7 linked regions of the Homo sapiens genome follow. The protein of the gene in region 7 purifies or fractionates together with the protein of the main gene of each other region. This does not show direct contact. Each region holds a gene or a part of one and is shown on either strand. Other genes may lie near its edges.

Region 1 (2,361 bases), about 120 Mb from region 7:
ACCACAATAATAATAGCTGCTTATGCTTATGGAGCATTGCCATGTGCTAGATAGGCACCATCCTCAGCCCTTGGCAGGTCTGAGCTCCTTTATTTCTTCCAATCAACACTATGAGGCAGGTTCTGTAACCCCCCTTAGGGTTAGGCCACTCGGGAAACTGAAGCACAGAGAGTTTAAGTAACTTCCTGGAGGTCCGACGCGTAACATGTGGAGGTGCTGGGATTCAAAACCAGGCAATGTGGGTCCCGGGCACTCTTGACCAGTGCCTGTACTTCTTCCAAGGAATAGAGCAAGGGAGGTCATACCGAATATCACAGTGTCACCTAGGAAGCCCAAGGGAGGTATTCCCGTTAATCTGCAGCCAAGGCCGGGCGCGGTAGCTCATGCCTGTAATCCCAGCACTTTGGGAGGCCAAGGCGGATGGATCATGAGGTCAGGAGTTCAAGACCAGCCTGGCCGAGATGGTGAAACCCCGTTTCTACTAAAAATACAAAAATTAGCCGGGCGTGGTGGCGGACGCCTGTAATCCCAGCTACTCGGGAGGCTGAGGCAGAGAACTGCTTGAACCTGGGAGGCAGAGGTTGCAGTGAGCTGTGATCATGCCACTGCACTCCAGCCTGGGTGACAGAACGAGACTCCATCTCAAAAAAAAAAAAAAAAAAAAATCTGTAGCCAAGACCGTTCCTTTTTTGACAGGAAGGTAACTTAGAAGAAAAAATAATCTCTGAAAAAAGTCCTCCCAAGAAGGAAGCAATATTTATTGTGGGTTCTACATTAGTGTTCACAAACTTGGCTCTGCCTCAGAATTAGGTGGAAAGTATTTTTGTGTGTGTGTGTGTGTGTGAGACAGAGTTTCACTCTGTCGCTCCAGCTGGAGTGCAGTGGCATGATCTTGGCTCACTGCAACCTCTACCTCCCGGGTTCAAGCGATTCTCCTGCCTCAGCCTCCTGAGTAGCTAGGATTACAGGTGTCAGCCCCCATGCCTGGCTAGTTTTTGTATTTTTAGTAGAAAGGCGGTTTCACCATGTTGGCCAGCTGGTCTCAAATTCCTGACCTCAGGTGATCCACCTACCTTGGCCTCCCAAAGTGCTGGGATTATAGGCATGAGCCACTGCACCCGGCCGGTGGAAAGCATTTTTAACAAAAAATTTTTAGGCCAGGCACAGTGGTGGCTCATGCCTGTAATCCCAGCACTTTGGGAGACTGAGATGGGAGGATCGCTTGAGACCAGCCTGGGAAACATAGTGAGACCCTTTCTCTACAAAAAGTTAAAAAATTATCTGAGCATGGTGGTGTGCACCTGTAGTCCCAGTTAGGAGGCTGAGGTGAGTGGATTGCTTGAGTCCAGGAGTTTGAGTCTGCAGTGAGCTATGATCATGCCACTGCACTCCAGTCTGGGTGACAGCAAGACCCTGTCTCAAGCAATTTTTTTATATTAGTTTATGTAATGTTTATTGAAATCACAGTGTCAACAAGCACCTCTGGCATGAAATAGTCACAGGAGCGAACACAACTATCTCTTGGAAGCATGCAGTTTGACTCATGGAATCAAGCATGTGCTGTACTATAATAACTTGTCTCTCCATGCCGTAATGCCATCCTGACTGAGATTTACCTGGCCCTTCAATATAGCATTTTGCATATCTACCTATGACATGATGGGAGGTGGCTAATGGGGAGGGATGCGCCCTGGGGAGTTTTGTGAATGTGTTAAGTGGAGTTAAGAGACCTACTGCATGCTATTGTATAGATTATACATTATATATTTAACCATTTGTTGCTGTACAGTGAAGCTTTTTCTAGTATTTCTTTTTTGCTATTATAAACAATGTTGCAGTAAATATCCTAAATACTCTAAAACATTTGACCCTTAAATTATTTTCTTTGGAAAAATATTAAATGAGATATTTAGGTCAAATAGTAGGCACACGTTGAAGGCTTTGAATATGTATTTCATGTAACCCTTCAGAACAGTTTCACACAATCACTTACACATCAGCAATTTCCCTGAACTTTGCCAATTTTTATCTTTTCTTTTTAAAATATCTTTGCCATTTTGATAGGTGAAGAATGACCTTCTGCTGGATGTGGTGGCTCACACCTGTAATCCCAGCACTTTGGGAGGCCAAGGCAGATTGCTTGAGGTCAGGAGTTCAAGACCAGCCTGGGCAACACGGTGAAAACCTGTTTCTACAAAAATACAAAAATTAGCAAGGTGTTGTAGTCTCACCAGTGCGCCAAAATGTAGCAGTCTTTGGTTGTCTGAGATAGTATCCGGAGTTCTTTGTGTCACAGAGCACGAACACAAGGGTGAGGTTGGAGCAAAAGTTTAGTAAGCAAAACAAGAAAGCTCTCGGCTG
Region 2 (3,500 bases), on a different chromosome or scaffold from region 7:
CACCAGAAAAGGAGGACAGTTATCCTTGGCAAGAGATTTAAAATGACCTAATATAACAAAGTTTAATGATTTGTCGGTCTTCAAACACAACTAACCAAAGAGTCAGTTTATTTCCCAACTGGTTAAAAATATGTATCTTTTTCTAAGCGAAACAAAATAGGAAACATAGAAAGACTCTTCTCTATCCCAATGCTTAAAATTTTTTGCTGTTTCACTTATGGTATGAAGACTCAAATTTCAACTTTGGGTAGATCAACCAAATGGCCTCTAATTTTCAAATGTTATTTAGCATCTACTTCAAGTTTCTCAAAGGGAGTCTAATTTCACATTTTACATCTTTAAAAGTTGTATTACACAAGATGTAAATTTCAGCCACAGATTCTCAATTGCAGGGGATAACTTGCTATCCAGGTTAGAATAAAAGCTTATAAGTAAACTACAGCAGGACAAGGGCGCTGGTATTGTATAGCAGTATTTATCATTCTACTGAGGAAACAAATGCCTAGCTGTTCTGCCTAGCCAGATCTTAAGTGACTATAGTAAGGCTGCTGCAAATTTCCAGTCTCCAGAAAAGATTCAAAGACAACACTGGATGTATTTCTTTTTTCTTTTTTTTCGGGGGAGGCAGGGGTGAGCCCCTAGGGGTACTCCTGTGTATGTCTAGTTTTGAAGAATAAATTAAGCAAAACTATTTTCAGGCCAAATAAAGCAAAATGGTAGGTAATCTCAAGAATGACTTATATTCTACAAGAGAATTTGTATTTCAAAATACTACTGTAATTCTAATTTACCATAATGACACTTCTGTGGCCCTACCAGGAAAAAAGCTTTATTTAATATGTAAACCAATCCAGAAAAACTATATTTGGTTAAGAAACCATGTATCCTAGAAGCTTTCACAAATTCTTCCTCACTAGATAGTCAATCCACTTCACAAAGCCCTTGTCAGGTAATGACTTAATTATGGCAGAGCTAACCTATTTCTTTTGTTTGTCTCTCACAGTGGAGACTGAACTCCTTGAGGACCCTTAGTCACTACTGAGTCTACAATCTCGGCACAAATTAAATTTCCACAGTTAAGAGGGAATGCATACTTACCTGGCACTTTTCAATTTTATTAAACCAACTTAGGAGGGTTTGAGAGTGTTTTGAATGTTTATTAGTTTTTAGCCAACCACAAAGAGTTTTTAAATTCTAATCTTCTGGTATTTCCCTCATTATAACCACCTGTTATCAGTACAGTTCCAAAGGCCCAAAATCTAATCTATGTTTTCACTGCATTTGCATTTGTCAAGTGGAAACATCACGATGTTTGGTGTCCCTGCCCCATACACATATATGCTTTAAAATTCTCAAGTGCTAAAGGTTAAATTAAAACTCAAATATGAAGACTCTCCAATCTACAAATTGGTTCCTTACAACTTGGGACCTGATCATTAACACTTGAAATGCTGTACCTTTAGATAAGGTGATTTACGGTTCTAACAGGTACTTTTAATAAATATAACAAGCTAAACTTGAGTATCTAGGAAGAAACTATGCAGCTGTTGATTCAAGCCTGAAAAACACATTTAAAGTAGCCCCCCCAGCCATCAACAGGGAATACATGCCAGTTCCTAGTGGATGCCTGAAACCAGGAATAGTACACCAAAACCTGTATATACTATGTTTTTTCGTATACATACCTATGATAAAGTTTAATTTATAAATCAAGCACAGTAAGAGATTAGCAATGACTAAGAATAGAACAATGATTTTAACAATACGCTATAATAAATGTTATGTGAATGGGATCTTTATCTTATTATACTGTACTCACCTCTTTTCAGAATATGGTTGACCTTGGGTAATTGAAACCACAGAAAGTGAAACTGCAGGTAAGGGGGAACTATTGTACTTATTATACATATTTTTTAAATTCTTACCTGCATTGTTAGTACCAGACTGACTGTCCTGGGAATTATCATTGCTTTCTGGGGGAGGCTGCAAGGAGGGTGATGGAGCTGTTTTAGTTCTTTTTTTGCTTGTCTTTCTTTCTACTTGACAGTCATCATCTTCATCATCTTCGCTTTCACTGAGATCATCAAAGCCAAAATACTTAATTTTGTAATTAGAACTTCCAGAACCTCCTTCATCACCTCCTGTCTCATGATCTTCAAAACCAAAAAATTCAAGTTTAACATCCTTTTTGGATTTAGTATTACTAGGTCGAAATCTAGTAGTAGTCTTAGAAGTTGCAATATCTGCCTTTTTTCTGAGACGACCAGCTTCTCCCAAATCTGCAGGAGTGGATGCAGTGAACTCATCCATGCTGCGTTCCATAGTATCCTGTATGGTAACATTACAAACTGACAAGCAAGATGGATGTAAAACAGTGTAATCTCTAGTCCGTCCAACTGTCCCTCTAAAACTGGTCCCACAACTTACACCCCCTTTCTTTGCCTGATTCAGGCCATCTTTACTCGATTCACTGTTTGCTTTGGCTAAGGCCTGACTGGTGCCGTCCATCAGCTTATCAAAATTTGATGCTCCTTGGGAGGATTTCGTTTTATTGGCCCTACAGTACGTCCTACAGTTGGTTGGCCTAAGAACACTTTGTACAATATCTTCCTCAATGGCTTCATTCAGATTTTCCAATCGATTTTTAAAATCGTCATCCTTCATCTCCAAAAGGGGATCACTATCCAAACTTAAAATACAGTCTTCTGATCTGATATCTTCAAAATCATTATCCCATTCAAACAAACCAGTTCTAACAGATCCCTTGATTGGAGATATTTCTGATGGTGATTCTGGCCTTTTCCCAAACTGGGAGTTCCAAGTATCATTTGTTTCCTTGATTTCAGAAGCCACTGTAGTTTCTGCATTGGGTTTCTTAGTACTGTCATCAGCATTTTTGTGAATATGGTGACTATTCTTTTCATGTTCTTCATGAAAATTCTCCACTTTATCTGTAAAAATAAGTCAAAGGATAAAAACATGAGTGGTATCAACATAAAAGTTAATAAATAACATATATGTGGTTAATCAATAGTATATGATCAATCTTGGAAGAACTGCAAATAATTTTAAGTTGTGAAGAAATTAACATTTACATATCAGACATTTCCTCTCCTATCTTTTCAGTGTATAGCTCTCATGCCTTCTACTGACCTTTCCTCAGGCAACCAAGTCCCTTAAAATTGTAAACTCACAAGAAATTTCAGCAGGGTTAAGCAACTGAATCCATTCAGAATGACATGTAAATGACTCAGCCAAACCTTCTTAGGGGTATTATGGGCTTTTCAAATAAAGATGCTTAAATTAAAAATCATTTAGTAAAACCTAAACCAACTGAACAGTTAATAAAAACCTTCTACCAGTGTTTTTATTTATCTGGGATAGGGCTGCCCATAAGGTATGCTAGTTCTATCCAGAAACCTGTCCATAGGATCAGGTTTCTCTAGCTATTTCTGTTCTTTCTTCTAATCCTAAATGCCATATAATCTCAAGGGAATTTT
Region 3 (3,500 bases), on a different chromosome or scaffold from region 7:
TGGCTAATGTTTTTTTCTCTCTCTCCTTTTTTTTTTTTTTTTTTTTTAAAAGAGACAGGGTCTCTCTTATGTTGCCTAGGCTGGTCTCAAACTCCTAGGCTCAAGTTACCTTCCTGCCTTGGCCTCCCAAAGTGTTAGGATTACAGGCGTGAGCCACTGTGCCCAGCCCTTCATGTGGTTCTTCACCTCTTGGTCCTCAACCACCCTTCAGCTTCACCCCACACCACATGCCACCCACCCTGCTCCGTCTCCCATCCACACGCTGTGCTCTAGCCCATGAGAGGATCATTGCTGTTCTCGATTACAGTGAACACTTTCTTATTGCAGCCTCACTCCTTGTTGTCTCCCTATGATGAGCAAACACCTCCCATTGGCTATCCATGACAGGTCTCACCTTGGAAGACATCCCTGCTACCCTGTCCCTTCCTGCAACCCTGGGGAAGATGAAGGTTCTCTCTGCTCTGTGCCCAAGAGCTTCTGACACAGGCCTCCAGGGTAGGATGATCATGATGCAACCCATGGCCCAACCACATTGGATGCTTTAAAGGATCTCAGACACCCAGCTTGCTGTCTGATCCACAGTAGATTGGTCAAGTGAACAGAATACTGGCTTAAAGGCATCCTAATAAGTCCATTCAACTAATTTGTTTATATTTTATTATATAAGATGAGAGGATTCAAATACTGAAATGAAAAACTCGGGCTAACCTTGTCAATGTTTTTCAAAGAGTGTTCCACAAATGAGTCCCACAAGATGGTGACTGTTGTGTATATAAAACCCGAGGTTAAACAGAGTTATTTACTGCAGGGTTTCTTAGAGTCTTTAAAATGTTAATATATCTTATGGAAAGACAAGGACTCTGGCAGTTCAGACATCAACATTTCCCAAGCCTATCTGACCACAGAACTTAAAAACATTTTTTTTTTTCCAAATCATATCCTACCCACTTTGGAACATGCTGTTCATCTACTTCTTATTCCCTCTTGCCTGTATTTCCATTAAAATGGGCTGATTTAGCTAAGAGGTACAGACCATTAAATAAGTATTTCCAAGCAACTATGTAGACTATTTGTTTTAAAATTTTATTTACTCATTCTTTCACTTAACCAAGGGTTATTAAATATCTAGTATATACAAAGTACTATACGGGCAAAAAGGTAAGACATTCTCTACCCTTGAGAAGCTTAAATTAAAAAAACTACAGTTCTGATTTTTATACTCTCTGTTTATAAGCTCCAGTTGCCCCAAGGGAGCTGGAGTCCTTACTTGTCCGTCTCAGGTGAGTAGGTCTCCACGGAGCTGAGGGAAGAGTTGCCATCGTAGCCCCCACAGACGTAGATCTGCCCATCCAGCACGACTGTCCCCATGGCACTGAAACAGACAGAGCTGTCATCCCAGATGAGCCGCAGCCTTCCTGGAGCAGCCTCTCTTGCCCACTGAGAAACAAACCTATCAATTGCCTCTTTCTGCAACGTAAATCTAAGGTATGTGACTAAGTAAAGGCATAAAACTGAGGTGACAGAAGCTGCCCCATCATTCCTCTTGTGCCCCACCCTTCTACCGCAGGCTGCCTCCCCTCCCTGCTCTTCTCTGTCCTTAATCTTTCTAAAATGCTTACCTTCCACCTCACCATGTGAAGGTCGAATTTACCTTGAAGGCCCAACTCAACTTCCACTCTCCTCTTCCTCCCCTTTGTAAGAATTACTCTTTCCCACCCCCACGCTCCCTGAGTGGCTTATTAATCAGCAGTTGTTACAATCATTCATTCATCCATCAGATCTGTAACAGCTGGGGTTTAGAGTGGTAAGCAAGCCAAAGTTCCAGCCCACAAAGCACTTATGTTCTGACATTATAGGCTACCAGGAATCTATCTGCCACTTCTGTGTGTAATTTTTAATCAGAGCCTTGCTCTGTCACTCAGGCTAGAGTGCAGTGGTACCATCATAGCTCACTGTGCCTTGAACTCCTGTGCTCAATTGATCTTCCTGCACTTCAGCCTCCCAAGTAGCTGGGATTACAGGTGTGCACCACCACACCCAGCTAATTTTTTTTTTTTTGAGACAGGGTCTTGCTATGTTGCCCAGGCTGGTCTCAAACTTCTGTCCTCTTGTCTCAGCCTCCCAAAGTGCTGGGATTGTTAAGAGTGAGCCACCACACCCAGCCAATCTATCTGCCACCTCTTAATAAGTGAGGAGCTCCTGGAAGACAGGAAAGGGCCTTCACCTGTGTGACCCTCACAGTGATAAGTATGATGTCCTGTATGTAACAGGCACTGAATGTATGTTTGTTGTGTTACCTCTGCTTTTTCCCACTCAATTCACAGATGTTGTTTTCATCATGTGCATGGCCTCTAATTTATCATAGTGGCTGATGCCACAGCTCCTGTTTGCTGTGCATTTACTACATGTGTTAGGTACTCTACATTTGTTATTTTCTTTTTTTTTTTTTTTTTGAGATGAGGTCTTGCTCTATCATCAGGCTGGAGTGCAGTAGCACAATGATGGTTCACAGCAGTCTTGACCTCCTGGGTTCAAGGGATTCTCCCACCTCAGACTCCCCAGTAGCTGGGACTACAGGCACATGGCACTATGCCTGGCTAATTTTTTTTTTGTATAGACGGGGGTCTCACTATGTTGCCCAGGCTGGTCTTAAACTCCTGGGCTCCAGCAATCCTCCCGCCTTAGCCTCCCAAAGTGCTGGCATTACAGGTGTGAGCCACTGTGCATGGCCCACTTGCTATTTTCAGCCCTTAGCACACCCTGCAAGGAAGGAAAGAGCACCATAATCACTGTACAGACAGGCAGCCATAGCTTGGGGAGGCTGAGGTCTCTCCTCAAGACTGCCCAGAGAGAGGCCTGCCTCAGATTTAAATGAGACAAGCCCAACTCCCCAACTCCTTACATGCCAAGCTCTCCTAATATCAAAGACCCAGGGGTCTGGTGGTGTAATCATGTAATCTTCCCTCCTACACAACGCCTTATAAGGAATTCAGCACAAATGCCAAGCTGCCCAATTCACTATTTTCAAATGTGATGCTGGTGAAGATTAAAAATGAATCTAGGTTTCTAACAAACAGGAAAATAAAACATACCAGGCTTAATGCTACCTTTTCTTTTTTTTGAGACGGAGTCTCACTCTGTCAACCAGGCTGGAATGCAGTGGCACGATCTTAGCTCATTGCAACCCCCGCCTCCCCGGTTTAAGCAATTCTCCCTGCCTTAGCCTCCCAAGTAGCTGGGATAACAGGCGCCCGCCACCATGCCTGGCTAATTTTTGTATTTTTAGTAAAGACAGGGTTTCACCATGTTGGCCAGGCTGGTCTCAAACTCGTGACCTTAGGTGATCCGCCCTCCTTGGCCTCGCAAAGTGCTGGGATTATAGGCGTGAGCCACCATACCTGGCTTGCTGCTACCTTTTAAATGTACATAGTAATCAAACTGATCCACAGAATGTCCCTTTCAGGGACATGATAACTGACCCCCTGAACCAGCCAGAAAGA
Region 4 (3,500 bases), on a different chromosome or scaffold from region 7:
CAATCTATCTATCTAATCTATCTTTTGTATTGGCAAGGTCTCACTATGGTGCTCAGCCTAGTCTTGAATTCCTGGGTTCAAACGATTCTCTGACCTTGGCCTCCCAAAGTGCTGGATTACAGACATGAGCCACCATGCCCAACCCATTATTTCATTTTAACCCAAACTTACGGGAGGGGGGCCTGAATCATTTTTCCCCCTTTAAAAACAGGATAAAATAACTGAGCTCAGAAAGGAAGTGATTTTTCCAAGTCAGACAGCTAGGACTGCAAAGCTACGACGGAAACCCAGGTCTGACCAAAGCCCTTGCTGATAATATACTCATCTTTCTTCCTGATAAGGGGTGGGTGACTCAGAAATTGGTTCATGGACCACCACGTAACCTCCAACGGGAGTAAAGCACACAGCTTCTACCTATAACTGAAAAAAGAGGCTCTCATCTGACCCTGGATGTGAGAAAGGAAGCAGCGTGTCATCCTGGGAGGTGCTGTCAGCCATTTTGCCACCATCAGGGAAGCTGGCCAGAGAACAAAGCTAACATGCAGGAGGCAATGGGAACAAACTACGGGGAAATAGAGCTGGAACCTTGATCAGGCTGCACCTGAAGACTGATTTTCCACTAGGCTTTTCCATATACAGTTGTTCCTTATTATTCCTTTTTGTTGCAGGGAATTGGTTCCAGGATTGCCACCCACTTACCACCCCACCAATACCAAGTCCTTGGATGCTCAAGTCCCTTACATAAAATGTAGTAGCACAGCTGATCCTTGAACACACGCATGAACTGCACAGGTCCACTCATATGCAGATTATCTCCTGCCTCTGCTGCCCTACACAGCAAGACAGCCCCTCCCTCTATTTTTTCCTCAGCATGAAGACCTTTATTATGATCCACTTCTACTGAACACACAGGAAATATAGGTTCCCTTCCTTATGATTTTCTTAACATTTTATTTTTCTCTAGCTTACCTAAAAATACAGTATATAACAGATATACAAAACATGTGTTAACTGACTTTATGTTATTGGTAAGGCTTCTAGTCAACAGCAGGCTATCTGTAGCTTTTGGGGAGTCAGAGTTATACCCAGATTTCAACTGCATGTGTAGGGGACAGCCCTAATCCCTGCATTGTTCAAGAGTCACTTGTATTTGCATATAACCTATGCACATCCTCCCATATGCTTTAAATCATCTCGATTATCTGATACAGTGTCAGTGCTCTGTACATGGTTGTTACACTGCATGTTCACATCTGTATTACTTTCTATTGTTTATGTTATCTTGAATGTTTTCAATCTGGTTGGCTGATCATGGATGTGGAAACGACAGATATGGAGGGCTGACTGTAAATGTGTTTCCTTTATTGTTTCGGTCAGTTTGAAATGTGTTTTCTGTTACTTGCATTTGAAAACATCTGACAAGGCTGATACAGAAGGTTTGAAGGTATACAGCTAGGAAGGACCTTGGCGTTACCTAAGCCTCTGATTACACAGATAAGAAAATGGAAACCCAAAGTCATCAAGTGACATGTCATGAAGTCACACAGAGTTAATACTTGAGCTAAGATATAGAATCCTGGGCTCTGAGGGGACCTGGCTGTCACCTAATCTAAACTTACCCTGCTCCCACCCACAAGCAGACAGCCTAAGACAGAGCTCGTTGCTCAAAGAGCAGTTAGCAGGTGGTGGTGGCTGGGGGAAGAGTAGCTAACTGGGCAGCAGAGGTTGGTCCCTGTGTTGCTACTCAGCTATTCAACCAGGCTGCTGGGCATCCCTCCGCAAACTTCACCTGCTCTTCAGGTAGCCTGGCTTCAAGCTGGGCTCAGTGGTGGCACCAACCCTCCTTGGGCATGGACAATCCTGTGCTAGCAACCTCCCTACTCCTAAAGGATGCATGACTCCAGAGCAGAGGCCGAGGCCGAGGCCATGCAAGGTGGAGCGACCTGCTAACCAGAGCTGGGGGAGGCATGTGAGCTCAGAGCATTGGTCCTGGCCTGTCCCAGCCCTCAACCCTGTCGCTGATGAGAGATTTAACAATGGTCCAGAAATGCAACTTAATCAGAAGCTGCTGCAGCAACAACAGCTAACAATGATTAAAAACCACTGGGCTTGCCAGTAAGGGCTGTGGGCTCGGGGTTAGTAAGAATTGGCACCCCACAGAACTTTCTTCCCAACCTGATTCATACCTACTACTTAACTTTGAACAAAGCTTCACAGATTCATTCCATGGGGGAATCCTGCTTTAAAAGAGAGATGCCTGTAGAATTTGGAGTGTATAAAAACCCAAAGAATTCACATTAGGAGAATTTTGGCTGTCACAGACAGCTTCACTAAAAGGTTTCTTTCCAAACAGCTTCTCCTACCACATTAAAGACCTCACAGGCTATTGTTACCTAAGAAGCAGGGAGGGTAATGACAGGATCCCTTAGGCACTTTAAGATAAGAGACTAAATTAATTTTAATGGTAATGGAAATACATAATTAGAATGCTCCAAATCTGAGTAATCTAGACTTTCAAAACCTCTGACCAACAGGCATCCAAGTCAGAAGAAGTCTGGCTCCAGACAGGCATCCCCCAAACAGACCAGCGGAAAGATCAAACACCTCACAGCTGCCCACCCCACACCTTTCAAAGCCTTGCACCCATCTTGGTCCAGCTATCCCAAGCTTGGCCAAGCCCCCATGTGCAGGGCTCTGAGGTCAGGAGGACAACCCCAATTCTCCTCAGCCTCCCAAGAGGGGGCCTTGGTGGCCATCCTGGACTGGCTACAAGAGCCTGAGACACGCCCTGCAAGCAGAAAGTCACCTGTGAGACTGAGGGACACTATCACAGGATTGGAAAGTGGGATCTTTTGGCAGGCAGGAGATGGAGAGCCAGGGTGTGGTAACGGGTGATGGGGTGCTGCCTCAGCTTGGGAGCTCACTGCATTCTGGGCAGTTAAGACTGAGGCAGGACCCAGAGGACAAGAGGAACCTCTGGTTTCCTCCCTAGTTGTTCAGCAATGCTGGACAGGCAGAAAAGGGGGCAGGAACCATGACCTAGAGCCACAGCCTAGAACAGTGAGGGTCAAACAGTGCCACTGCAGCCTCAGAGTGGCCCTGAGGACAGCTGGGCACAGACAAGGGTGGTGCGGCAGCAGGCATGCACACACAGGATGGGACGGGGCACCGGCACATGGGCTTGTCTGTCTGGCCCCATCTCTGCCCCACCACTTCCACCACACCTCCCATGGGGCCAGACGGCGTGTGGCGGTGGTTTCACAGGCTCAGCTCCAGCACTCAGGCAGTGTTCTGAGCTGAAGAGTTCACGCAGGGGTGAGCACATGGGGCCCCTGTGGGCAGTGCAGTCTGGAACGCCCACTTGCCTCCCGCTTATCTGCTCTGCCTATGTGCAGAGGATGTTCTTCCCCAACTTCCTTCATTGCCTGTTTTTGCCCAGAGGGAAAAACCATAGAGGGGTGATGGGAGGAAGGTTCCAGAAGTTTCAGAATGTTTTTCTT
Region 5 (3,500 bases), on a different chromosome or scaffold from region 7:
CCTACAGCCAGGAGGCATATGTGGATTATAAATATGTGACCTCTAGAGGCCCCATCTTTCCTCAAAAATATACATGCAAAAATGCAAAATCTGGGCTGCGCACGGTGGCTCACGCCTGTAATCCCAACGCTTTGGGAGGCCGAGGCAGGTGAATCACGAGGTCAGGAGTTCGAGATCAGGCTGGCCAACATGGTGAAACCCATCTCTACTAAAAATACAAAAATTAGCTGGGTGTGGTGGCACGTGTCTGTAGTCTGAGCTACTCAGGAGGCTGAGGCAGAAGAATCGCTTGAACTCGGGAGGTGGAGGTTGCAGTGAGCTGAGATCGCGCCACTGCACTCCAGCCTGGGCAACAGAGCGAGACTTGGTCTCAAAAAAAAAAAAAAAAAGGCAAAATCTGAATCTAATCATAAGGAAACATAAGACAAATAAGAATACAGGGCCATTCTACAAAAAAATTAAATAAATAAATAAATAAATAAATAAAAGATAGCTTGCACACATCACAAATGTCAATGTCTTGAAAGAAAAAGGATGAGGAACCAATTTAAAGGACATGAAAGGACACCAGATTAAAGGAGAAGAGACCAAAGGGACCTGACAATGAAAGGTAATATGCAATCCAGATGGAACCTGGACCAGGAAAAAAATGCTATAAAATTCATTATTAGGACAATTAGCAAAATTTGAATATGGACTTTGGATGAAATAATAGCATTATATCAATGTTAACTTTTTCTGAAATTAACAATTGATTGTGTTTATATTTGTATGCAAGAGAATGTCCATGTTCTTAGGAAATATATGCTGAACTATTTAGGGGTAAAGAGGACTGATGTCTCCGACTTACTCTGCAATGGTTCATTAAAAAAATTGTTCATGTGGATATATATGGCGAGAAAGAGAGCAATAAAGTGAACACAGCAAGATGTTAACCTGTGAATATGGACAAACAGGTCTATGAGAGCTCTAGGTTCTACTCTTGCTCTTCAATAAGTTTTAAATCATTTCAAAATAATAAATTATAACATCTGGGAAAAAATGCATAGGGCCAGCCCCACCCCAGCAGAGGACCCCTCAGGCCACCAAACTCAATCAAGGGCATGCTACTCTACCCCTGGAATAGTAGCTAGACCTCATCACACTGGGTCCTCACACCAACCCACAGAAGCAGCTATTCTTAACCTCATTAATGACTGGAGAAACTGAGGCACGGGGTATGAATCCCCTATCCCTACAGTAAGGAAATAGTAGACGCCATGGTTCTAACTCAAACCATCAAATACTTATCTGGACTGTTCTATTATATGCCTTAGAAGAAAAGTTCATTTTAAAAATGCATGAATACCGTATAGTATTCTCATGTGCTTAACACAAATTAAATAAATGTTAATCGTAGAAAGCTATGTGGTCCAACCTTCTTATTCACCCTCCAGACTTGGAAACAGCATAAAAGTCCATAGCATAAGCAATCACAAGAGAGAAAATATGATCTAAGTTATTTCAAAGAGAAAAGAAAAATAAAAACTAAGTGCCCATTATGGGGATGACAAAGTTTAATTTAAAAAGCAAAAAAGAAATCTTTGTGACTTTGGGATAAAGACTGCATAGATATGACACAAAAAGCATGAATCATAAAAATAAACATTGATAAAGTGGACCTTTCTTAAAAACTATTAAGTAACCTAGATGAATGGAAGATAATGTTTGCAACACACATAGTAAACAAAGGATTTATATCTAGAAAATATAAAGAACTCATAAAACTTAATAATAGGAACACAAACAATCCAACAAAAAAATGGGCAAAGATTTTGAACAGACACTTCACAAAAGAAGATATACACATGTCCAATAAGCACATGAGAAGATGCATAACATTATTACCCATCAGAGAAATGCAAATCAAACCACAATGAGATACTACTTCACACCCACTATAACGGCTACAATAGAAAAGACAGACAACAACAAGTGTTGACAAGGATGTGACAAAATTGTAACCCTCAAAATGGCTGATGGGAAATGTAAAATGGTGTAGCCACACAAGTAAACAGTTTGTCAGTTTCTTAAAATGTTAAACATAGATTTACCATAAGTCCTGTAATTCCACTCCTAAGTATCTACCAAAGAGGAATGAAAACACGTCCACACAAAAACTAGGGTGCAAATGTTCACAGTAGCATTTTCCATAATAGTCAAAATGTAGAAACAAATCAAATGTCCATCAACTGGTGAACAGATAAACAAAATATGGTATATCCTGACACTGGAATTCTTTTTTTTTTTTTGAGACACAGTCTCACTCTGTCACCCAGGCTGGAATGCAGTGGCACAATCTGGGCTCTCTGCAACCTCTGCCTTCCAGGTTAGGTGATTCTCATGCCTCAGCCTCCCGAGTAGCTAGAATTACAGGCATGTGCCACCACTCCTGGCTAATTTTAGTATTTTTAGTAGAGACAGGGTTTCACCATGTTGGCCAGGCTGGTCTTGATCTAAGTTATCCTGACCTCAGGTGATCCACCTGCCTTGGCCTCCCAAAGTGCTGGGATTACAGGCATGAGCCACCATGCTCGGCCTGACACTGGAATTCTATCCACTGTGTAATAAAAAGGAACAAAGTACCAATATATGCTACAACATGGATGAACCTCAAAAACATCCTGGGTGAAAGAAGACCACATATTGTATGAGTCCATCTATATAAAAATGTCCAGAAAAGGCAAATCTAAAGAACAGAGTAGATTCGTGGTTCCCTAGGGAGGAAGTAGAATTGAGAAATAACTGCAAATGAATACAAAGTTTCTTCTGGAATGGAACTGTTCTAAAATAAGACGGTGGTGACAGTTACACGACTCTGCAAATATGCTACCAACCATTGAGTCCTACACTGAAAACAGGTGAATTTTATGGTATGTAAATTATACCTCACTCAATAAAGATTTACAAAAAGAGAGATATGCAACCTCATTAGTCATCACTGAAATGCAAATTAAAATCAAATATCACTGCACACCTACTAGAATGGTTAAAATGTAAAAGACTGACAAGCGATGAAAAGATATGAAACAAGTAGAACTCTCATTTTACATTCCTACTAACAGTTGGTAGGAATGTAAAAGGGTGCAGTGCATTTGAATATTGTTCCCCAAAAAGATATGTCCGAATCCAAAAACCCGGCACGTGTGAATGTAACCTTATTTGGAAAAAGTGTCCTTGCAAATGTAATTAAGTTGAGGCTCTTAAGGATCTCAGGATCATCCTGGATTTAGGACGGGTCCTAATCCAATGACTGGCATCCTTTTAACAGAAAGGAGAGAGAGATTTGAGACACAGAAACAGAGAGAAGGCCATGTGAAGATGGAAGCAGAGAAGTTATGAAGTGATGCTACCACAAGCCAAGGAACACCAGGGACACTAGAAGCTGGAAGAGGCAAGGAAGGAGTTTCCCCTAGAGTCCTTCAAAGGGAGTATGGCCCTATTGATGCCTTGATTTCAAT
Region 6 (3,500 bases), on a different chromosome or scaffold from region 7:
CGAGTGCCTGCGATTGCAGGCGCGCGCCGCCATGCCTGACTGGTTTTCGTATTTTTTTGGTGGAGACGGGGTTTCGCTGTGTTGGCCAGGCTGGTCTCCAGCTCCTAACCGCGAGTGATCCGCCAGCCTCGGCCTCCCGAGGTGCCGGGATGGCAGACGGAGTCGCGTTCACTCACTCAGTGTTCAATGGTGCCCAGGCTGGAGTGCAGTGGCGTGATCTCGGCTCGCTACAACCTCCACCTCCCAGCTGCCTGCCTTGGCCCCCCAAAGTGCCGAGATTGCAGCCTCTGCCCGGCCGCCACCCCGTCTGGGAAGTGAGGAGCGTCTCTGCCTGGCCGCCCATCGTCTGGGATGTGAGGAGCCTCTCTGCCTGGCTGCCCAGTCTGGAAAGTGAGGAGCATCTCTGCCCAGCCGCCATCCCATCTAGGAAGTGAGGAGCGTCTCTGCCAGGCCGCCCATCGTCTGAGATGTGGGGAGCGCCTCTGCCCTGCCGCCCCGTCTGGGATGTGAGGAGCGTCTCTGCCCGGCCGCCCCGTCTGAGAAGTGAGGAGACCCTCCGCCCGGCAACCGCCCCGTCTGAGAAGTGAGGAGCGTCTCCGCCCGGCAGCCACCCCGTCTGGGAGGGAGGTGGGGGTCAGCCCCCCGCCCGGCCAGCCGCCCCGTCCGGAAGGGAGGTGGGGGGGTTAGCCCCCCGCCCAGCCAGCCGCCCCATCCGGGAGGGAGGTGGGGGGGTCATCCCCCGCCTGGCCAGCCGCCCCGTCCGGGAAGGATGTGGGGGGGTCAGCCCCCCGCCCGGCAAGCCGCCCCATCCGGGAGGTGGGGGGCGCCTCTGCCCGGCCGCCCCTACTGGGAGGAGAGGAGCCCCTCTGCCCGGCCAGCCGCCCCGTCCGGGAGGGAGGTGGTGGGGTCAGCCCCCCGCCCGGCCAGCCGCCCCGTCCGGGAGGTGAGGGGCGCCTCTGCCTGGCCGCCCCTACTGGGAAGTAAGGAGCCCCTCTGCCCGGCCAGCCGCCCCGTCCGGGGAGGGAGGCGGGGAGGTCAGCCCCCCGCCCGGCCAGCCGCCCCGTCCGGGAGGGAGGCGGGGGGGTCAGCCCCCCGCCCGGCCAGCCGCCCCGTCCGGGAGGTGAGGGGCGCCTCTGCCTGGCCGCCCCTACTGGGAAGTGAGGAGCCCCTCTGCCCGGCCAGCCGCCCCGTCCGGGAGGTGAGGGGCGCCTCTGCCCGGCCGCCCCTACTGGGAAGTGAGGAGCCCCTCTGCCCGGCCACCACCCCGTCTGGGAGGTGTACTCAACAGCTCATTGAGAACGGGCCATGATGACAATGGCGGTTTTGTGGAATAGAAAGGGGGGAAAGGTGGGGAAAAGATTGAGAAATCGGATGGTTGCCATGTCTGTGTAGAAAGAGGTAGACATGGGAGACTTTTCATTTTGTTCTGTACTAAGAAAAATTCTTCTGCCTTGGGATCCTGTTGATCTGTGACCTTACCCCCAACCCTGTGCTCTCTGAAACATGTGCTGTGTCCACTCAGGGTTAAATGGATTAAGGGTGGTGCAAGATGTGCTTTGTTAAACAAGATGCTTGAAGGCAGCATGCTCGTTAAGAGTCATCACCACTCCCTAATCTCAAGTACCCAGGGACACAAACACTGCAGAGGGCCGCAGGGTCCTCTGCCTAGGAAAACCAGAGACCTTTGTTCACTTATCTGCTGACCTTCCCTCCACTACTGTCCTGTGACCCTGCCAAATCCCCCTCTGCGAGAAACACCCAAGAATGATCAAAAAAAAAAAAAAAAGAAAATTGGAAAAAAAAAAAAAAAAAAAAAAAAAAGACTCCATACCAAATGTACTCAGGAACTCACTGGACTCTTAGAAATCCACTGCCTGTGGTTTATGTGGCAGAGTTACGCATCAGCGATTCAAAGTAGGGTATTTCAATCCAGACTGCTTTGTTTATATGCAGGATTCATTTCCCATTTCATGTTTGATCAAATATACTGTAGTGTGTAAGAGTATTCTTACCTACCTGCATTAACATATAGTAAATTCCAGCCATGCCATGGGCTGCTCCAACGTACTGCTTCCGGTGCCACTGGTACAACAGCGGGCAGCGCTCCGTTTTTCTTTCTTCCCTTGACAAAGTCTTACCCGATTCAATAATAGCATTGACTACCTACAGAGATAACAAGACAGCATAAATCTAAAACTGTATATGTACCCTGTTGTAGTCTAATTAACAGTATGTCATATATATATGACATATATAGAGAGAGAGGCAGAAGCCTTAATCTAAAAGTCTTTAAGCAGTTAGCAGCTAATATAGTTATATTTATTTTATAAATTAATAAATGCAGGCAAAAAGAAATCAGGAGCCAATGTCAGAGTAGGAAAAGATACTGTCTAAGAAATAAAAAATTCTTTGCATAAAAAGTCAACGAAAAATCTAGAAAAACTTCTTATAAAACTGTTTTGGATTTCTTAGTTGCTTCGTAGCTGCAGTATTTTTCCCAAAAGAGCAGCACATACACCTATCAGGAAAGGCTGGAGGAACTGGCTTTATTTATAAAAGGCTAATGATATGAGGTCTGCTGTGGCATGAAGGATTTCAGTTAGATCAACAGAATATCATGTCTGGGATGACTGTTTCCTCACGTCTATCTCCTCTCATCCTTTTTGGGAAAGTATTCCAAGTTTTAGCTGGGCATCTGGCTCCCTAGTTAGAGACAGCTGAACACAGACACTTGATGAAGTTCTGGCACTGGGATGGGAGCAGAAGTAAAGAGGGCAACTTGGAGACTGAGTCCCTAACAAGGAAGCTGCGTTGCCTCCACCTCCTCTTTTCCCTTCATAGGCTGAGGGGCTAAACTAGCCTTGGTCCTGCAAATAAGGGTATGCCCCTAGGATAAGGCAGAATGAGACAGAAGAAGCTGGTCCCCACTCATACCAGCCTGAAATGCTTACCAGCTGAGACATCTCACGAAAGATAAATAAACATTCTAACTTTCTGAAGCTGCTGCTGTTTAGCTCCAGTAAAAACTGATAAATTAATACAAGATGAAAGAGAGTACAGATTTTTTTTGTTAATGTTCCTAGAAAAAAGCAGGGACTATTTCTTACTTTTGATGAGTTGCTTTAAAAAAGTAATGCTACCTAGAAGTAAAGTCCAGCTGTTAATACAACTCAATGCTAGCAAATAGGTTTGAATGGTAGAGACGCCCATAGTTACCCATACCCCATAGTACCTCTTTAATAGCTGACTCACACACGGTGCCTGGACCTATCTCTGTGTTCAGGTACAGTAAGGCATACAGATAACCTGCCCGTCCATAAAGCAGCTCATCAGGAAGGTCTGATTCTTGGCAGACAACCGATCTCTGGAGCTGCAAAAGTCTAACCAATAAGAAAAATTAATTTTTTCCCAGTGGAAGTCTAAAGTACTTCTTCCTGAAACACTAACCCTGTTGCTTTAGGAATTACCTATTATTTATTTTACATTTAAAACAATTATTT
Region 7 (4,257 bases):
GCCTCCCAACAAATGATTCCTATACCTTCTGCTAATAGTAGATACATTCTCTGGATGGATAAAAGCTTTTCCTACCACCACCGAAAAGGCACACCCCATCACTTCTATTCTCTTCACTCATATTATCCACAGGTTTAAACTCCCCTCTTGGATTCAGTCAGACAATGGGCCAACATTTGTTTCACAGGCTAACCAACAGCTGGCAAAGGCTCTAAACATTAAGTGGGCCTTCCATATTCCTTACCTCCCCTAATCTTCATGTAATTAAAAAACAAACAAACAAACAAAAACTCCCTAGAGGTTAAAACGGCCCAGGCTTCACTTCTCTTACTGGTCCTCATGCATTTATGAGCCATTTCCTCAAATCCCCTCAGCCTAAGCCCTATTATCCCCAGCCCAAAAGTCCATCCTCAAAACACTCCTCCCTGTCCCTACAACCAGGGGACTGGGTCTGAATCGCAGACTCCTCCTCCTCCCCTCTCCAACCTAAGTGGACGGGTCCTCAGCAGGTTATCCTAACTACTCACACAGTGGCAAAGCTAACATCCTTCCCACACTGAATACACCATTCCAAACTAAAAAGAGCACCAGATCCACATCTAGAAATTTCCTCACCCCCAAATTACTCTCTCTCCCTCACAGGACCAACCTCACTGCACTTAACAAGAATTCCAGAAGTTGCCAATCCAGAATGCCCTAGTGCATAACAGTCTCCATCTCCAATTTCCAATCTTTTATCTCCTACTTTATTTCAGATCTTTCCTGGTGTCCCTTCCCCATGTCCCTGGATAGCCCATGCCAATTTCCCACAGTAATGCAGGAGGTATGACTGCAGGGCGCCTTCCAAAATTTCACTCCTACTCAAATCTCCTTTTTCTCCTTTTGCCCTTTTTGTCTGTGGAATATTCTAAGTCCCCACCCCCAACCTCTAACAGTTGAGCCCCCTTCATCAGCCTAACACATTGCCTCTTAAATCAGTCACACTCCCTCCCGTCTTTCTTCCAACTGTTAAATTTGTTTGTCCACACAAATCCAGCAGTTCACAGCCCTTCCTTTCAAACTGGCCACGTAAACCCAGTCCAAAATAAACCTGCATCTCACCTACTTGGCCAATTCATTCTCAAAACCTGTTTATAATCTTGCTCAGCTAAACACCTTTCTCCCCAGTCTATCAGATCCACCCACACTGTCACACACAGGGCTGTCACCCTCCTTCGCCTCATAGCCAGCCTCTTAACTGAACACGATACAAGCTGGATCCCATAAAACACCTCTTACCAACCCCTCCCCTCTCTGCCAGAGCCGCTCTTCATGTATCCAACTCAACAGCGCTCCCTGGAAAAAATGCACAAACAATTCCCTCAACTGCAACCTATATCCTTCTGCCATATCAGGACCGCAATGACTATTAGTTACAAAAACCCATTTATCTCTCTCTCTCCAAAACCAAACAGCCTTCAACTCCTCCCCCACCAGCATTTTCTGTCATGCCCTCACAGGGCCTACCCTTGCTGGCAGCTATTCAACTTGGAAAAGCATAAAAGTTAAAACAAAGGGTTTGTGCAGAATTCAACCCCCATCTTCTCATGACTTGCCACCATAAGCTACAACTTTTGTCTGTCCACCCCCAGTGTCTTCTTCCTTTGTGGCACAAACTCTTATCTCTGCCTACTGGCCAATTGGTCAGGAACATGCACCCTTGTGTTTCAGTCTAAACGTTAACATTTTGCCTCACAAGCAGACCATCCGGTTTCCTTTAGTAGCTTCTGTCTCATCTTCCTCCACACACACTAAGCAGGCTCTACATTTCATTCTAGTGTTAGCAGAACTAAACATCTCTGCTGCACTCAGCACTGGGATAGCAGGGGGCCGCTTTCTTAGGTCCCCTAATCTTTCTCCTCCAAATACTACAATTGGCCCATGTATACTCACCTTCATATCCCTCTTTATCTCCCTAAAGCTAAACTCCCCTGTCCAGGCAGCCACCCAGCAACACATTGATACCATCCTTCTCCGCTGCCAAGTCCGGTACCAGTGCCTCCAGGAAAACAACTCTGAAGTCCAACACCCACTGCTTCAAAACCCAAACCCTGAATACAGCTCCCCTATTCAGCAGCAAGCAGCCAGATAATCAACCACGTCCCTCTTCCTTTTATGATAAAGTAGAAGGCAAGAATATCAGTCTAAACTGCACTCTCTTGTAAGCTCCCTTCTATTTTGTAGACCTTGGTCAAAGTGAAACATTCCACGGGAGTTCTGGCCGTGAGAAAAATCCCGCCTAACTGCCTGACCATGAGGTGGATAAAGGCCCATCTAAAAAAACATCCCTATCATATCTTGTTGGGGAAAAAGGTCCAAGCAACACCATGATGACATCCCACCAGAAAAAGGGCCAAACTGCCTGATCATAACAACATCTTATCAATATTCCGCCGAGCAGCCAGCCATACTGCCCAAACCTCTCCCACCCATACCTATAAGTACGCTGGCCTGTATGTAGCGGTGGGCTCTGGCATGAAGCTGGCCCCACATTTCTGCAGGTGTCTGCAGTATACCCGTGTTGCTGTTTGACCCGCGCCCTATCTGTGTGTCTTTCTTTCACCCTCACCTTCCCTTCAAAACCTAACAATCTGACCTTGTCAACTTTTCTTTTGTTAGATTCACAGGGGCTCTTCATTTTATTCTCGTTGGTGCTGGAAGTTGGCTCTTCCATGATTATGGTTGGTTGTAGAATTTCTGTACTAGGATCTTCTAGGGTGCAGATTTCCACAGCTGTATTGAAGCTTTCCAGTGGGCTGTCCCAGAGCTTTTGCCCACCCTGTATATATACCCTCCTGGGAGCAAGACGAAGCCACACCCTTGAGCTTTGTTTGATCATACAGGCAGTGTCCCAGCCAATGGTAGTCCTAGGGTGGCTTTGGCATCACAAAGAACCACCTCTGACAACTCCCTGGGTTTGTGGGGGAGGGGTGAAAGGGGTGTAGAGGAAACCAAATGCTGTTGTTGTTTCAGCATCCCCTGAAGATGCATCCCAAACTGATCTGCCTCCGCTCCTCATTTCTCCATGTTTAATGTTCATGGTTCACATGGAAGTGAGAGGATGATTCCTTCAAGCCCTTCCCCACAGCCATTCCTATTAAGTGATTCATTCTTTTGTCTTCCAACCCTCACCATGACCTAGTATTTTAGATGTCTCACCTCAAATCCCTCCAAGCTAGTGTGGCTACATTTAATTATTGGTGGAGATGTGAATTATCCCGCTTCCCTCCTGCAGTTCCTTCATATGCACCTTGAAGACCATTAACTTTCAGGTTTCTGCCAGGCAAATTTCAATCCATGTTCTTTTTTCCAATGTCCATGTAGTCCTCTTAAGTTTCCTATTTCTAGTCTGAAATCATGGCCTTCAGTCTGCCAGAACTTCAGTGAATAAACATCCTTACTGGGTATCCTAGTCTTGTTTCAAATCAGGGGTGTATGTTCATAGCAAATGTAGTCTCCCACAACATGGTTTTTACCAGTGTGTAGGGTTGGGGGAGGAGTGGGTACACATGTGCTGGAAGTTGTTCTGAGTGTTTACATGCAGAATACTATCTAACACCAACATGTACACCAGTGTGGGCATTGTTACATTTTGTAATGGAGATTGTGTCCAGTGCAAAAGAAAAACAAAAGGCATTTAGTGTGGAAGGGGAGAAGTAAAAGTATCCTTTGTCAAAGACCACATGAGAGCCTGTGTAGAAAAGTCGATCTAAAAAAAAAAAAAAAAAAAGGCTTTGACAATAATTGAGATTAGCAAGATTGCAGGATAGAAGATCAACACACAAATCAATTGTATGTTTATATGTTAGAAGTTATATATTAGAAGTTTATATATTAGAACAGTCAGTGTTTCAGCCAATGGTAGTCCTAGGGTCGACTGGTAGTTAATTTCAACAACCGGAATTTGAAATTAAGCACAGTGCAATTTAAAATATCTCAAAAAATATTAAGGCTTAGGGATAAATCTGAACAAAAATGTAAATGACTTGCACAGTTAAAACTACAAAAAATTGCAAAGATAATAACATAAGGAAAAATCGAGATGTATACTTTGATTTTCGGTTAGAAGATTCAATATTGAAGATGTCAGTTATTTCCAAATTCATCTGTAGATTCAACTCAAACCTAATACAAATTCTAAAAAGGTTTCTTAATAGAAATTGACAGGATAATTATAATATTCATATGGAAATGTAATGGGCCTAGAACAGCCAAAAG

Evidence for each region.
Region 1: the proteins of SPANXN4 (region 7) and ACOT9 purify together in Homo sapiens (affinity purification with mass spectrometry; one large-scale study listed by BioGRID and IntAct). This does not show direct contact.
Region 2: the proteins of SPANXN4 (region 7) and WAPL purify together in Homo sapiens (affinity purification with mass spectrometry; one large-scale study listed by BioGRID and IntAct). This does not show direct contact.
Region 3: the proteins of SPANXN4 (region 7) and KLHL18 purify together in Homo sapiens (affinity purification with mass spectrometry; one large-scale study listed by BioGRID and IntAct). This does not show direct contact.
Region 4: the proteins of SPANXN4 (region 7) and MTMR14 purify together in Homo sapiens (affinity purification with mass spectrometry; one large-scale study listed by BioGRID and IntAct). This does not show direct contact.
Region 5: the proteins of SPANXN4 (region 7) and FTO purify together in Homo sapiens (affinity purification with mass spectrometry; one large-scale study listed by BioGRID and IntAct). This does not show direct contact.
Region 6: the proteins of SPANXN4 (region 7) and LANCL2 purify together in Homo sapiens (affinity purification with mass spectrometry; one large-scale study listed by BioGRID and IntAct). This does not show direct contact.

Annotation. Positions count from the first base shown.
Region 1 is NC_000023.11:23,700,555-23,702,915, reverse strand, and holds the end of ACOT9 (acyl-coenzyme A thioesterase 9, mitochondrial isoform a precursor), read left to right. Parts: 3' UTR 1-1,861; downstream 1,862-2,361. UniProt on the Homo sapiens protein: Mitochondrial acyl-CoA thioesterase. Catalyzes the hydrolysis of acyl-CoAs into free fatty acids and coenzyme A (CoA), regulating their respective intracellular levels. Regulates both mitochondrial lipid and amino acid metabolism.
Region 2 is NC_000010.11:86,497,793-86,501,292, forward strand, and holds part of WAPL (wings apart-like protein homolog), read right to left. Parts: intron 2,952-3,500; coding exon 1,926-2,951; intron 1-1,925. UniProt on the Homo sapiens protein: Regulator of sister chromatid cohesion in mitosis which negatively regulates cohesin association with chromatin. Involved in both sister chromatid cohesion during interphase and sister-chromatid resolution during early stages of mitosis.
Region 3 is NC_000003.12:47,338,444-47,341,943, reverse strand, and holds part of KLHL18 (kelch-like protein 18), read right to left. Parts: intron 1,388-3,500; coding exon of another isoform or gene 1,373-1,387; coding exon 1,268-1,372; intron 1-1,267. UniProt on the Homo sapiens protein: Substrate-specific adapter of a BCR (BTB-CUL3-RBX1) E3 ubiquitin-protein ligase complex required for mitotic progression and cytokinesis.
Region 4 is NC_000003.12:9,691,005-9,694,504, reverse strand, and holds part of MTMR14 (phosphatidylinositol-3,5-bisphosphate 3-phosphatase MTMR14), read right to left. Parts: intron 1,002-3,500; exon of another isoform or gene 1-1,001. UniProt on the Homo sapiens protein: Lipid phosphatase that specifically dephosphorylates the D-3 position of phosphatidylinositol 3-phosphate and phosphatidylinositol 3,5-bisphosphate, generating phosphatidylinositol and phosphatidylinositol 5-phosphate.
Region 5 is NC_000016.10:53,707,156-53,710,655, reverse strand, and holds part of FTO (alpha-ketoglutarate-dependent dioxygenase FTO), read right to left. Parts: intron 1-3,500.
Region 6 is NC_000007.14:55,399,837-55,403,336, reverse strand, and holds part of LANCL2 (lanC-like protein 2), read right to left. Parts: intron 3,381-3,500; coding exon 3,233-3,380; intron 2,164-3,232; coding exon 2,017-2,163; intron 1-2,016. UniProt on the Homo sapiens protein: Necessary for abscisic acid (ABA) binding on the cell membrane and activation of the ABA signaling pathway in granulocytes.
Region 7 is NC_000023.11:143,024,471-143,028,727, reverse strand, and holds the start of SPANXN4 (sperm protein associated with the nucleus on the X chromosome N4), read right to left. Parts: upstream 2,801-4,257; 5' UTR 2,714-2,800; coding exon 2,636-2,713; intron 1-2,635.